Homo sapiens: one gene and its partners. The protein of the gene in region 1 purifies or fractionates together with the protein of each later gene. This does not show direct contact. Each region holds a gene or a part of one and is shown in the gene's direction. Other genes may lie near its edges.

Region 1 (3,902 bases):
GGGAATGTGAGTGTTTTTTGGACACCTCAGGGTATGGGGCCGAAGGGTGGGAGTGGTCAGGAGGTAGCCTTTTCTTCATCGACCTGATTGTGAGTGAGCAGATGAGAGAGAAACTGTGTTAACTGTACCGGTTGGCTGGTCTGACTGAGAAAGGGAATGAGCATCTCTTTAAAATAAACCCTGGCTGGGCGCAGTGACTCATTCATGCCTGTCATCCCAGCACTTTGGGAGGCTGAGATGGGAGGATCATGTAAGCCCAGGAGTTCAAGGCTGCAGTGAGCTATGATCACACCACAGCACTCGAGCCTGGGTGACAGAGTGAGACCTTTCTCTATTGAAAAAATAAGAGTAAAAATAAACCCTGACAATGCTGAATATTTTTTTTTAATTATGGAGCTCATGGAAAACAAACTTTGCATCTATTTTAACTTGACTACAGTTTGTATTGGTATTCAAAGCTACAAGGTGTCCAGAAAATTCTGTGTCTACTCATTTCCAACTCAATATTACATTTCTTCAGGGTCTCTAAGATAAGACTTATTGAGATGTAAATTGTAGGGCTGCAGAAACCTGGGCAGTTGGCATGAACATTCTGGGTTCTTTTCTCCTCCTCACCCCTGCCCACCCTCTCTCAGCGCACGATGGGATCGTGATTAAGATCGAGGTACAGACCAACGACGAGGGCTCAGAAAGTTTGGAGACACCTGAGCCCCTGATGGGACAGGTGGAAGAGCACGGCTTCCAGGACTCAGAGCTGGGTGACCCCTGTGGGGAACAGCCAGACCTGGACATGCAGGAGCCAGAGAACACGCTGGAGGAGTCCACGGAAGGCTCCAGCGAGTTCAGCGAACTGAAGCAGATGCTGGTGCAGCAGAGGAACTGCACGGGTGAGTGCTGGGCGGGGACGGCCGGGGAAGGGTTGCCATGAGGCCTCCCAGAGGGCCCCTGCCCCCTGGGAAAGCTGTGGTTCCTTCAGAGAGGTAGCTGGACACTGATGGGGCAACAGGTGGGAAAGAATTACCAAGCACGGCCTCGAGTATAGGCTCCGTGACGCGGGACTTGTAAGAATCCGTCTCCAACCTAGGAAAGAAGTGGTTACATCTAAAGACTGGTTCAGGCAAAGGGATCTCAGAGCTCACCTATCCCACCCCTCATTTTACAGACAGAGGTTAAATAGATGGGGCAAGGCCACACAGAGAGTGGCAAAGCTAGAACTCTCCCAACGTGTCCTTGATCATCTCATATCACCCTAGAAGCCTCAACTACCTTGAAGATTTCAGCCCTGGAGAGCATGGTTTTCAAATAACAATAGCACCGGCATTCTGTGGTCGAACCTAGTCTTCATTTTTGTTTAATTATAAAACTTTATCACCATGCTGCTCACTCTTGCTCCTTCTGAGTTCAAGAACAGTAAGGCACTGGGGCTCACGGTGGCCTGATCCCAGGACATCTTTCGTGATGGATTTTCTGATGCTGAGCCATCCTGGCAGGCCCGGGAAAAGCCCTACTTGATCATCATGATGTATTTTTTGAATTCACTATTGGACTTAGGTAATAAATATTTTACTCAAGTTAGACAACTGTATTCATAAATGAAATGAACCTTTTCTTGAATTATTCTCATCTAATTTTGGAAACAGTATTATACTGGACATATCAGATGAACTGGGCAGCTTTTGCTGTTGTTCTGTATTCTGAAAAAAAAATAGGAATTGAGTGTGTTCCTTGAAAAATTGGTAGAACCCACATGGACTTTTGTTTTTGTCTGGATGTTTCGTTTATGTGTGAGTCATTCACCATTACGTTTGTATTGTATTTTCATATTTAGAAATAGATCCACATCCATTTCTGTTTTTAAAAGTATTATATTGATGTAAAGTGTTTAAAAATTATCTGTAGATAATTCCTCTATAATTTGCCTTTTTGCACTTAATAAAATACCCATGGTATTTTATTAATGACCATCTCGTTGGTCAAAAGATATGGATCTAGGCCCAGGGCAGTGACTCACACCTGTAATCCCAGCACTTTGGGAAGCAAAAGCAGGAGGATTGCTTGAGCCCAGGAGTTCATGGCCAGCCCAGGCAACATAGGAAGACCCCATCTCTACAAAAAAATTAAAAATTAGCCGGGAATGGTGGCGCATGCCTGTAGTCTCAGCTCCTTGGGAGGCTGAGGTGGGAGGATTGGTTGAAGCTGAGAGGCTGAGGCTGCAGTGAGCCATGATTGTATCACTGCACTCCAGCCTGGGTGACAGAGCAAGACACTGTCTCAAAAATATGTACATATATGGATCTACCACCTTATTTTTAAGTAACTCCATGGTATTTCAGAAGTGTTTTTGACATACCATGCTGTCTTTCATAACAGAATAGTGAAAAGACATAAGGTAAATTCTGAGTATATGCTAAATTGGGACCATCATCGTATAAACTCTATTGCCTTTTGAGCAGTCCCCATTAATTGTAGTAGAACTTTAGAAAACTACTAAACAGTAGTTTGTGGAGTTTTGAGTCTTGAGTTTTAGGGCCAAATGTTTGGCGTTTACCATTCCATGAAGAAAAAAGCACCTTCGGCCAGGAGCGGTGGCTCATGCCTATAATCCCAGCAGTTTGGGAAGCTGGGGCAGGCGGATCGGATCACTTGAGGTTAGGAGTTCGAGAGCAGCCTGTCCAATGTGGTGAAACCCCATCTCTACTAAAAGTATAAAAATTAGCTGGGCATGGTAGCAGGCACCTGTAATCCCAGCTACTCGGGAGGCTGAGGCACGAGAATCGCTTGAACCCAGGAGGCAGAGGTTGCAGTCAACCGAGATCGTGCCACTGCACTCCAGCCTGAGCGATAGAGCCAGACTCAGTCTCAAAAAATAAATTAAAAGAAAAAAAGAAATAAGCACCTTTGATGCTCAAGGAGAGTTTAGTGCTTCTCAGGATCTATTTTCCCCTTTGCCTTTCAGACATACTCAGTATTTTCAGGATAAACACCAGGGCAACTAGTTACCACACTCTGCAGCTGCCTGCTCCTTGATCTTTTAGGCATCACGCTCCAAGGATGTTCTGGGTCGCTTCTTGCTGAGAATCCTAACACTACTGAGGCAGCCTTGACTCAGCACACCTGTGTCCTAATTTTACCACTGTAGTTCACTGGCTGTAGAGGAGGCCAAGGAAGTGCTAAGGACAGGGAGTCACTAGCAACCTTACAAGACGTTGGCTGGGTCACAAACATTGCTAGCTTCAGTCCATGTTACTTGAGGAGGTAGACCAGGTGGGTCCCAACCTGCAAACTCTAGAAAGGCCTAGGACTTCATTTTCTATTTGGAAACATCACTTGATATCTCTGGGCTTGGATGACCCATCTGTAAAATGGGGAGAATTCTTGCTTGACTCGTCCTATAATAAGATACTGTGCTCATGAAAAAAAAAGGACAGGTATGAGTACTCTGAAAAGGTCTTGTTGGTTTTTAATTATTCTGCAAACACAGAATTTTTGTGTCTTCTGTCACAGATGGGTCCAGAGAAGTGACTTTCTTATGTCACACAAAGCTGGTGACTAAAAATAGAACTCACCAGTTAGTGCCAAATAAGTACAAGGCACTTGAGAAAACTCAAACAGGAGTCGGGAGCCACTTCTTTTCTCTAAAACTTACATTATCATAAAGGACCAGGCTAGAGAGTTGAGGGGGCATCCCCGGGTGGGGCATGCACTGCCTGCACCTGATCCAGATTCAAGGGTGGTCGAGTCTGACTGTGCCGGTGCATCTTCCACCCATGAGAGGCTGCAAAAGGCTGGGTTCCTGATCCCTGGGGTGGGCACCAGTGAGTACTGTGGGCTCCAAGGAGGGGTGGAGTGCTGTAGGTTTTGATCACCAAGGCAGACATGGAGAGGAGAGGGAAATTTCTGGA
Region 2 (3,900 bases), on another chromosome or scaffold:
ATAATACAAAATCTGTTCAAGGAACTAATTGTATTTTCCATGGTTATGGGAAGGTATTGCTGTTAGATCAAAGTATACTGCTGTGTTTGAATGGGTTTAATTGAGTATGAAAGGAGGAACATGTGAAACCATCAGTGAGTATGCTGAGAAATCATTAAGACTTTAAAAAGGAAAATTTTATGTGGATTACAGGTGAATCTCAGCCTTGCCCATCTCTTTTAATGCCTTGTTTGAAATAACTTCACCTGAACCTAAAATAAAAGTTAAAAACTAAAAAAAAAAAAAAAAAAAAAGAACTTTAGACCATCCTTTTGGTAACTTCAATCATTACCTTTGATGGGATGATCTGAGATTGGGTCTTTTACTTAACTCTGTCACATAGCAGACTGTCGTGGAGAGGCATTTTTTAAAATACTATTGTTTTTGTTTTTAAAGCGCTATCACACACCTCCAAGATCAAGATCCTGTTCTGAGTCAGATGATGATGACAGCAGTGAAACTCCTCCTCACTGGAAAGAGGAAATGCAGAGATTAAGAGCATATAGACCACCTAGTGGAGAAAAATGGAGTAAAGGAGATAAGTAAGAACTTTGAGTATAAGCACAATCCTGTGTCTGTTATATTTTAAATGTTAAAGGGATTGGATACAATTCTGGACTTTTCATTAAAGATTCAGTGAAAGATTCACAGTCAGACTGTGACCAAAGGAAATACATTTGGGACTACTTGATGAAAGTAGTACTGTTAACTAGTTGGGCTTTTAAATCAAAATCCTGTTTTCCTTAACAAAAACTATAAGCCTGTGTCTTTTAATGACCTCTTAGTCAATTTTAGAAATAATTAGGACTTAGAGGCCGGGCGTGGTGGCTCACGCTTGTCATCCCAGCACTTTGGGAGGCCGAGGCAGGCGGATCACGAGGTCAGGAGATTGGGACCACAGTGAAACCCCATCTCTACTAAAAATACAAAAAATTAGCCGGGCGTGGTGGCGGGTGCCTGTAGTCCCAGCTACTTAGAGAGGCTGAGGCAGGAGAATGGTGTGAACCCGGGAGGTGGAGCTTGCAGTGAGCTGAGATCGTGCCACTGCACTCCAGCCTGGGTGACAGAGCGAGACTCCGTCTCAAAAAAAAAAAAAAATAATTAGGACTTAGAAATTATATAGCAGATTCTTTCCTAGCCAGCCAGGTCACTGATGAGTTCATTGGTAAATAGGAAAACCTGCACTCGGTGTTCATGTTGACTGTTGATCGCAGAGACTTGCTTTTTTAGAAGTGTACACATCTCTTACCTTCAGTGATGTCCCACAGTTGAATATTTATTTTAGGAAGGGGATAGGCCCCAGAATAGCTAGTGAAAAATATACTAATGGGACCCTGTGTAATCTTCCATGGTAGTATTCTCTTTTTCTCTGGGGACATCCTGCAGAGTGGTTTGGAATTGTGAAAAGGAGGAAAAGGAATGCATCTGCTGTGTAGAAGCGGCTCAGACACAGTGGTGCTGAGGACTTTCAGTTCTGAGCCTTGACATTAACACTCAGATTGTAACCTGTATCTGTTTTTGTGTACTTTTTCCTCAATTTCTGTTTTAAGTAGTTTACAGTCTTAGGGGAAATCTGGATTACCTGTCTGAGGTGGAGAAAAAACAAGCTTCATGCTAGTTTCAAGCAGCTATCCTGCATCTTCAGAAAATCAACAAATTGTTTGAGACCTTGGTTTGACTCACCCTCAAAAACTGTCCTAGAGGCAGAGGGTTGTGAGCAGATAACAGCCAGGAACTCTTGTGATTTGAGTTCAGCAGTGTTCTTGTGATTAGTTGGTTTGCTTTTCAAAAACATTTTCCTAACAAATGTAAGGTTCTTTGCTTAGCTTAAAAAAAAAATCCTTTTGTAAGTGAATTTGTTAGTAGTTCTTAGTGTGTGTCTCTGAAAGTATAACAAGACCAGGCCTATAACTCTGATTCACGCTTCCTGCGTGTGCTTAAAGTGTTAATGGGGTCAAGAACTTTGTTGTTAACAAAGCTGTGTCTTAAGGTGTAGAAAACATGCTTATAAATCACCGCATGAATATTATGTCCTTTCTATAGGTTAAGTGACCCCTGTTCAAGCCGATGGGATGAAAGAAGCTTGTCTCAGAGATCCAGATCATGGTCCTATAATGGATATTATTCAGACCTTAGTACAGCAAGACACTCTGGCCACCATAAAAAACGCAGAAAAGAAAAAAAGGTTAAGCATAAAAAGAAAGGGAAAAAGCAGAAACACTGCAGAAGACACAAACAAACAAAGAAGAGAAGGATTCTTATACCGTCTGACATAGAATCCTCAAAATCTTCCACTCGAAGAATGAAATCCTCTTGTGATAGAGAAAGGAGTTCTCGTTCTTCCTCATTGTCATCTCATCACTCATCAAAGAGAGACTGGTCTAAATCTGATAAGGATGTCCAGAGCTCTTTAACCCATTCCAGCAGAGACTCATACAGATCAAAATCTCACTCACAGTCTTATTCTAGAGGAAGCTCAAGATCAAGGACTGCGTCAAAGTCCTCATCACATTCTCGAAGTAGATCAAAGTCCAGATCTAGTTCCAAGTCTGGGCACCGAAAGAGAGCATCAAAATCACCAAGAAAAACAGCTTCTCAGTTAAGTGAAAATAAACCAGTTAAAACAGAACCTTTAAGAGCAACCATGGCACAAAATGAAAATGTAGTAGTACAACCAGTTGTAGCAGAAAATATTCCTGTAATACCACTGAGTGACAGTCCCCCCCCTTCAAGATGGAAGCCTGGACAGAAACCTTGGAAGCCCTCTTATGAGCGAATTCAGGAAATGAAAGCTAAAACAACCCATTTGCTACCCATCCAAAGCACTTACAGTTTAGCAAATATTAAAGAGACTGGTAGCTCATCATCCTACCATAAAAGAGAAAAAAATTCGGAAAGTGATCAGAGCACTTATTCAAAATACAGTGATAGAAGTTCAGAAAGCTCACCAAGGTCAAGGAGCAGATCTTCTAGGAGTAGATCTTATTCCAGATCATATACAAGATCACGTAGTCTAGCTAGTTCACATTCAAGGTCTAGGTCTCCATCATCTAGATCTCATTCACGAAATAAATACAGTGATCATTCACAGTGTAGTAGATCATCTTCATATACTTCTATTAGCAGTGATGATGGAAGGCGAGCTAAGAGGAGACTTAGATCCAGTGGGAAAAAAAATAGCGTTTCACATAAAAAGCATAGCAGCAGCTCTGAAAAGACACTTCACAGTAAATATGTCAAAGGTAGAGACAGGTCTTCATGTGTGAGAAAGTATAGCGAGAGCAGATCATCTTTAGATTATTCTTCAGACAGTGAGCAGTCAAGTGTTCAGGCCACACAGTCAGCCCAGGAAAAAGAGAAGCAGGGCCAAATGGAAAGAACACATAATAAACAAGAAAAAAACAGAGGTGAAGAAAAATCCAAGTCTGAACGGGAATGCCCTCATTCAAAAAAAAGAACTTTGAAAGAGAATCTTTCTGATCACCTTAGAAATGGCAGTAAGCCCAAAAGGAAGAATTATGCTGGTAGTAAATGGGACTCTGAGTCAAATTCAGAACGAGATGTCACTAAAAACAGTAAAAATGACTCCCATCCATCCTCTGACAAGGAAGAAGGTGAGGCCACATCCGATTCTGAATCAGAGGTTAGTGAAATTCACATCAAAGTCAAACCCACAACCAAGTCGTCCACAAATACTTCACTGCCTGATGATAATGGTGCTTGGAAATCAAGCAAACAGCGCACATCAACTTCTGACTCTGAGGGGTCCTGTTCCAATTCGGAAAACAATAGGGGAAAGCCACAAAAGCACAAACATGGGTCAAAGGAAAATCTTAAAAGAGAACACACCAAAAAAGTGAA
Region 3 (3,900 bases), on another chromosome or scaffold:
AAGACTTGGGGGAGAGACTGGGAGAAATACTGGAAAGGGAAAATCATCAGCCCTGATTGGTGACTGATTTATAAGGGGAATCCTTTCCTTTTGTATTTATTCTAGTAGTTTCTTCTCTCTCTCAAAGAAGTTTGAAAAGTTTGACTGTTTGGAATAGTTAAGGTAAAGATCTCACTTTTTTTTTAGGTTATAAAAAAGTTGGGGTTAGATTTATAGATGTGAACTTGAGGGTTATTTATATACAGAATACTGTAAATAAATATATACTGGATAGTGTTTCTGGACAGAGGACTTTTTCAATTTCTCTGTCATTTGTCATCTCTTTCAGAATATATTATTATCCCAGCAGAAACAAAATTAAGAGAGCTGAAGGTCCATCACAGGATACAGGATCTCTGTGTGTTGTGACAGTAGGAATGGCAGAGTGTCAGTGTGGAGTTAAGGAAGTGGGAGGGAGTTCTTTTGTCTTTTATTTCAGTTTTTTTTTGGAAGTACCTTATGAGGACGTCAGCTATGAGGAAGGATGACAGGAGTTTGGGGATTGGATGTTTCAGGAGAGAGCAGAGGGTTTGAAATCATTTACAATTTACTATGTGGGCTGAAGTCGTGTGGAACTTACAGCAGAAGGTTCTCCTGATCTTTCTGAGTCTTCCACATCTGTTGTTTTAAATGTGTTAAGAAGTTTTTCATTCACTTTGTTCAGGAGCTCCCTAAGTACTAACATAGATCATACGAGCATTGGAAATATTAGCTGACAGTTTCAGTAACATCACAGGACATTTCCTTTGGGATGAGCAACTGAGGTGTACAAGGCTGCATAAGTTTCCCTGAGAAACTCACCTGTAAATTATTATTGTTATTATTTAGAATTTAGAGTATAGTTGTTCTCTAATTATGTAGCAGACACGATTGTACTTGAAACATTGTGATGGTAATTCAACAAAAAATACTTATTTTAAGATAACGTACCCTAAGTATATACTGACTTATATAAGTAAAGAATTATTTCTTTCATCTTCTAGTTTAGGTGAAAAATCTAGTCTTGCTTTTTTGTATGTAACAATGTATGGCTATATAATATGTTATTCTTTCTTTTTAGAAAGTATTGATCCAGGGTTTTATTTACATTATGTTTGTTTATTTAGTTTGCAAGTGTGTGACGTTGAAGCCTGGTTGTATATAAAGATATGTATTCTGTTAGTGTACATGGTTATTGTTTTCAGGAGGGTAAAAAATAATAACAATCATTGACTTCACTTTGAAACACTGTTACTTTCTACTGTCAAAGAAACCTTGAATATGTAGACTGAGGAGGAATTGTTTTAAAGCAAGGAAAAAAATTCCAGAGGAAGAGCTAGTTTGGTTTCATAGTACATCATCTACTTATCTACCACACACACAAACACACACACATACTTTTTTTTTTTTTTTTTTTTTCCTCAAATGAGCTGTGTTACTCTTTAGGGATGCTTGATGCCATTAATATGATTGTTCATTTTGGTTATTACCTTATTAGAAAGGCAACTGATATTTTACTCTTAAATGTACTTAAATGGAGTAATAGCATTTATAAGACTCCTGGCATATAGTTTCACTTTTCAGAATCATCTTTTGGCTAAAGAAATTTAACAGTGAGATTTTAAGTAGATAGCTCACTAAAGAAGTAAGGTTAGTGCCTTGGTTTGAAAGTAGCATTACTTTGCTTGTAATTGTTTCACTTTAATTGTATTATACATTGTTTTCTTAATAGTTGTGATGTCATTTTTCTCTTTATTACTAATTTTAGATACTCCACACATTCCACATAGATTGAGAAAGCCGAAAGTAATTAGGTGCTTGATCAATCCAACTCACCTGGACCAACAAACTCCTTTTAAACTAATGATGGTCTTTGGGGCTTAGGTGTATATATTTTTATTCCAATTTTATAATTGGCTATATTATATGTCTACTGATTTCTGATTTAATGATGAAGTATAGAATTTGTCATTTTACTGTGTGTTTTTTTTTTTTTTTTTTTGACAGAATCTCACTCTCTTGCCCAGGCTGGAGTGCAGTAGCACAATTACAGCTCACTGCAGTCTTGGCCTCCAGGCTTAAGTGATCCTCTCACCTCAGCCCCTTGAGTAGCTGGGTCTACAGGTATGGGTGACCATGCCTGGCTAATTTTTAAATTTTTTGTAGAGATGGTATTTTGCCATATTGCCCAGGCTGGTCTGGAACTCCTGGGATCAAGAGGTCCTCCTACCTCGGCCTCCCAAAGTGCTGGGATTTAAGGAATCCCACTGGGTGTGAGCCACTGGGCCTGGCCTATTAAGTGATTCTTAAGTAATATAATTTTAGTACTCTAATTTTATTTTTATTATTTTATTTTTTGAGATAAGGCCCAGACTACAAGTACAGTACATAATCATAGCTCACTGCAGCCTCAAAGTCTTGGCTAATGTGATCCTCCTGCCACAGCGTCCCAAGTGTTTGGGACTACAAGTGTGTGCCACCACATCTGACTAATTTTTATAATTTTTTTATACAGACAATGTCTCACTGTGTTGCCCAGGCTGTTATTGATTTCCTGGCCTCAAGCAATCCTCCCACCTCAGCCTTCCAAAGTGCTGGGATTGCAGGCATGAGCCACTGTGCCCTGCCTGTACTTTTAAAATTTAAATTTCTTTTCAAGTTTAATAATGTAACAGGATTATATTTTGGAACTGTATATTATGTATTACAGATGTGGAATTTATATGTAGTAGATTATGTTTAACTATTTTTTAAATATATTTTTAAGAGCTTCCTTATCCTTGTATAGCCTCCAGATGTGAAGTATTGTTTTATATTTTGTGTTATAGACTGCAAAAAATGAGGCCTCATCACATATCTCACAATCCCAAAGAGAAACTCTGCTTTACATTTTTCTTTTTTTCTTTACTTTTTCTTTTTTTTTTTTTTTGAGATGGAGTCTCGCTCTGTTGCCCAGGCTGGAGTGCAGTGGTGCAATCTCGGCTCACTGCAAACTCTGCCTCCTGGGTTCACAGCATTCTCCTGCCTCAGCCTTCCAAGTAGCTGGGACTACAGGCGCCTGCCACCATGCACTGCTATTTTTTTGTATTTTTAGTAGAGATGGGGTTTCACCGTGTTATCCAGGATGGTCTCGATCTCCTGACCTCGTAATCCGCCCGCCTTGGCCTCCCAAGAGAAACTCTGCTTTATATTTTTCTATCAATTCACAGACTTATAAACCTTTTTAAAACAGGTATGTACTATTTGACAGTTTTCACAAGAATATCCTGTGAGACTGTGAAGTTAAAACCATTAAGCCTTGTAGTCCATGGGCTGGGAAGAGTTGGATGATTGGCTCATTTGATAAATACATGAATTCATTTGGGCCTTTAGATTCAGAATTGAGATCAATCTGAAAGAGTAAAAGTACACTGTGTATGGTGGTGGTGGTGGTGGGGGTTACTGGAATAAGGTTTAAAAACTTGCCCCAGAAGACCATACTTCATGACTGTGCTGTTTATTTTCACCAGATTCCTATCATAGCTTTTATGGGAGATTTATAACTTTATTTTCTAATGATTATTACCTTTTTTTGTGAGATGATTGTATATAAGTCTTCACTAATTTATTCATGAATAACTGTTACTGACCTTACTAGAGAATGCAGAACATTTGTAAGTCAATGAATGTATATTTGTGACTTATCTAAGATTACTTTGAGATTTAAAGACAATATATGTAACATACATACTGCTTTGTAAATACGTGCATAATAAATGCTGTTGTTTACTAAAGCTTAAAGCTCTATAGACTAGCATACTGTCTTATTAACAAAAGAAATTTATATTTATTATCTTATTCTTATATCAATATATAATTAAAATTATAATATTAAAAAAAGCA
Region 4 (3,900 bases), on another chromosome or scaffold:
CAAGCAATCCTCCCACCTCAGCCTCCCATGTAGCTGAGACTACAGGCATGCACCACCACGCCTGGCTAATTTTTTGATTTTTTGTAGAGACAAAGGTCTCCCTATTTTGCCCAAGAATGAGCATTCTTGATGCTTTTGTAATCCTGTAGCTACAATGAGATGAATGAAAGTCAGTTCTGTAGGTGGGGCTGTCTCCTGGTTCTTGGTTTAGAAAAAAGCCAACAGTTGTGTATTAGTTTGCTGGCTGTGGCTGTCATAACAAATTATTACAAGCTAGTTGGCTTGAAACAACAGAAATAGATCATCCCACGGTTCCGAAGGCCACAGTCTGAAATCAAGGTGTCAGCAGGGTTGTGCTTCCTCTGAAGGCTCTAGGGAGTCTGATCTGTGTCTCTTCCAGCTTCTGGTGGCTCCAGGCATCCCTGGCCCATGGCTGCATCACTCCAGTTTCTCCCTTCATCCTCACTTGGCTTTTCCTCTTCTCTCAGTCTTCCTCCCTGTTTCTCTTATAAGGACACTTGTCATTGGATTTAGGCTCTGCCGGGATAATGCAAGATGATCTCATCTCAAAATCTTTCACTTAATGAAATTTGCAAAGATCCTTTTTCCAAATAAGGGCGCGTTCACAGGTTTCTAGGGGTTCAAGATATAGACATACCCTTGCGGTGCCACTACAAGTATTTTCTGTTTATAAGACACTTTAGCACTTCGCAGACCTTGGTCTCCCTCAGCAATTCTTAGAGATAGATATTCATGTCCCCCCCAGCAATTCTTAGAGATAGGTATTCATATGCCCCCCAGCAATTCTTAGAGATAGATATTCATGTCCCCATTTTGCTGGTGAGGAAATGATTTCTCATTCTCTGCCACTTTAACCCCGTAATAGTCTTTAGCTTGGGACTCTGTGGCCACTAAGCTCTCAGGAAGTCAGTCTGCGCCTGACCCATAAGAAAAATTATCTAGGTGGGGCCCCATGACTGAGATGTGAGCATCCTTTGGAATGTGACACCATCCTTTCTTCCTTCTGCTTTGGGAGGACATGCCAGTCACCAAAAGCTCTCTCTGTGTGAGCCACAGTTGGAGAACACTGACTAGGTGAGGCCTCCTGTTTTGGGCAGTGTCTGTTTCACCGACAAGAAGACTGCTGTCTTCATTTTGCACATATGGAAACTGATGCCCAGAGAGGTGCCCTGACCCACGATCACACAGCTAAGTAGTGATGCAGCCTGCTGTCTGCACACCAATCTGTTTCACTCTGAAGCATGTGTATTTCTCTGAAAATAACTGATTTGCAAGGCTTTCATGGAGTAGGAAATTTGAAAAGATTCAAAAAGGGCATTTGTTGACAAGTCTCACTCCCACCCCTGTCCTGCAGCTCCCCAGTAACCGCCTAATGAGGCAGGTGTCATCAGTGTCTTGTTTATCACCCGCCTGCCCAGGGCCCCTCTTTTTTTTTTTTTTTTTTTTTTTAAGAGGCAGGATTTCCCTGGAGTGCAGTGGCAGAATCCTAGCTCACTGCAGCCTCAAACTCCTGAGCTCAAGGGATCCTCCCACCTCAGCTTCCTGAGTAGCTAGGACTACAGGTGTGTGCCACCATGCCCAGCTATCCTTTTAAAAAAATAACATCTGCATGCACACATATGCACACGTATACAGGTGTTGCCCGTGGATATATGCACATAGAGAGAAAGTGTGTTCTCTTAACGGGTATTTTACACTTCCTCCTGGAGAGCTGCACTTTACCAGTGATGTGGTCGCTCCTCGTCCCACTCCCATCTAAAGTATGAAACTTTAGAGTTTCATACTCTGATTGGAAAAAACACAAAGGGGGCCTGGGAGCTGCCATATGTCTGGTGGCAACAGAGACTAAAGCCTCTCTCCTGCACCCTGAGATGCAGCATGGGGGCCGAATGTTGTCCTCAGGGAGTAGACAGCAGTCAGGGCTCTGGGCTGGGCTCCTTCCGGCTCCATTCTTGGGTGAGTTGCCCATCCTCTGTGACCCTTGGGCTGTGATCTGCATGGGACTGAGTCCCTCCCCAGCAGTGTGTTGTAATGAAGACCCACAGGGCCATCACTCTTGTCTCTGCAGTTCCATCATGTCCCCCTCTATCTGGAGTGGGCTCCAGTTGGCGTCTTCTCCAGCACAGCCCCACAGAAGAAAAAGCTCCAAGACACACCTTCAGAACCCATGGAAAAGGACCCAGCAGAGCCAGAAACAGGTAAGAGCTGAGTCTGAGACCAGGATGGCTTGGGATCCTGGTGAGGGAAAGGAGGAGGGTTGGGGGCAGCGTGAAGTTTCTTATCAAGCCTCTGGTTTAAAGCTCTTTGTTCATGCTAGAGACCAGCAGGGCTCAGACTCTCAGATTTTATGGGCATGTCCTGTAAAAAACAGTGTCAAAATTATGGATGCAATATGCTTTTAGTTTGTCAATTAAAGCTTTTAGGGGAAAAAAATTACTATCTATTAACAAGGATTCAAAGCAGAGCAAGTATAAACAACCTTCCTGTTTCAGAGATGGACCAGAATGGCTCATGGAGGAGGGTGGCTGGTATGGGAGATACTTATTCTCATGTCCTTGGAGTGGCAGTGCCCTCTGATGTCCAGTGACTGCAAAGACAGGAAAGGAAGGGGAAGCCGTGGCCCCTGGGGGCCAGATAGGGCAACCCCCACCCCCTGGCTAATGCTTCCTAGCTGGGAAAAGGGGTATCATTGGGCTTTGGGACTGGACAGTACTTTCTTGTCAGGACTGCTTTGCAAATCACAAGACATTTCACATCCCTGGCCTGTGCCTCTGAGTGTCACGAGTGCCCCCAGTCCTTGTGACAACCTGGAACACCCCCACGCATTCCTAGATGCCCACAGCGGGCAGTGTATCCCCCGCATCGAGGACCTCATAGTCTAAGGACCATGACCACATCTTAGAAGCCAAGACCAACAGGACCATGGTCATTCTATCCAGATGTTACGATTTTCCTTGTCAGTAATAACCACTCACCTATACACACCCACAATACAGCAACCAGTTGTTTAACTTATTAAAATAAGGATGTTAAAAAAAATAATAATAAGTCCTCAGCTACTCTCTCCTTTGTTCTCATTTTTTTTTAAAGGACATTTCATAGTTAAAAAAAAATGGGGAGGAACACTGTCAGATTTAAGAGTTGTTTTTTTTGTTTTGTTTTGTTTTGTTTTTTTGAGACAGAGCCTTGCTCTGTTGCCCAGGCTGGAGTGCGCGATCTTGGCTCACTGCAACCTCTGCCTCCTGGGTTGAAGCAATTCTCCTGCCTCAGCCTCCCGAGTAGCTGGGACTACAGGCGCCCACCACCACGCCTGGCTAATTTTTTTGTATTTTTGGTAGAGACGGGGTTTCACCATATTGGCCAGGCTGGTCTGGAATTCCTGGCCTCAAGTGATCTGCCTGCCTCAGCCTCCCAAAGTGCTGGGATTACAGGCATAAGCCACCACGCCCAGTCTAAGATTTTAGTGGAATAGACTTTGCTGTACCTAACCTCCCCTGCCTTGTCCACATTTCTCATTTCCTTGTTTCACTGTGTATCTTCAGGACTGGCTCAGCCAGCGCAAGGCATTCAGGAAGTGCCTGTCTGGAGGCCTGTTTCAATCAGGAAACAAAATCCTTCAGTCCCTTTGCGATCTGAGGACCCAGAAGCATCCCACATCGTTGGGGTTAATGATGATTGGTGTAAACCTTGTGAAAGCCCGACTCCTGCTCGTTTATGAGTTAAGCTCTCTCCACTCAGTTTGGATCAGGGTCTCCTTCAAAACCTGTGCCTGTTCCCATCAAAACAAAATTCTCTTCATGTCATCCTGGCTTGTTCTTAACTGTCTCCCCCAAATCACAGCTGCCTTGATTTTTACTTCAGTTACCACCCTTGAACCTA

Evidence for each region.
Region 2: the proteins of ZNF777 (region 1) and NKTR purify together in Homo sapiens (affinity purification with mass spectrometry; one large-scale study listed by BioGRID and IntAct). This does not show direct contact.
Region 3: the proteins of ZNF777 (region 1) and PRKD1 purify together in Homo sapiens (affinity purification with mass spectrometry; one large-scale study listed by BioGRID and IntAct). This does not show direct contact.
Region 4: the proteins of ZNF777 (region 1) and RBM19 purify together in Homo sapiens (affinity purification with mass spectrometry; one large-scale study listed by BioGRID and IntAct). This does not show direct contact.

What each region holds. Positions count from the first base shown.
Region 1 is NC_000007.14:149,433,560-149,437,461, reverse strand, and holds part of ZNF777 (zinc finger protein 777), read left to right. Parts: intron 1-635; coding exon 636-887; intron 888-3,902. UniProt on the Homo sapiens protein: May be involved in transcriptional repression. Inhibits cell proliferation through CDKN1A/p21 induction by down-regulation of NIBAN1/FAM129A at low cell density.
Region 2 is NC_000003.12:42,634,786-42,638,685, forward strand, and holds part of NKTR (NK-tumor recognition protein), read left to right. Parts: intron 1-435; coding exon 436-581; intron 582-2,082; coding exon 2,083-3,900. UniProt on the Homo sapiens protein: PPIase that catalyzes the cis-trans isomerization of proline imidic peptide bonds in oligopeptides and may therefore assist protein folding. Component of a putative tumor-recognition complex involved in the function of NK cells.
Region 3 is NC_000014.9:29,921,348-29,925,247, reverse strand, and holds part of PRKD1 (serine/threonine-protein kinase D1), read left to right. Parts: intron 1-3,900.
Region 4 is NC_000012.12:113,935,326-113,939,225, reverse strand, and holds part of RBM19 (probable RNA-binding protein 19), read left to right. Parts: intron 1-2,089; coding exon 2,090-2,219; intron 2,220-3,900. UniProt on the Homo sapiens protein: Plays a role in embryo pre-implantation development.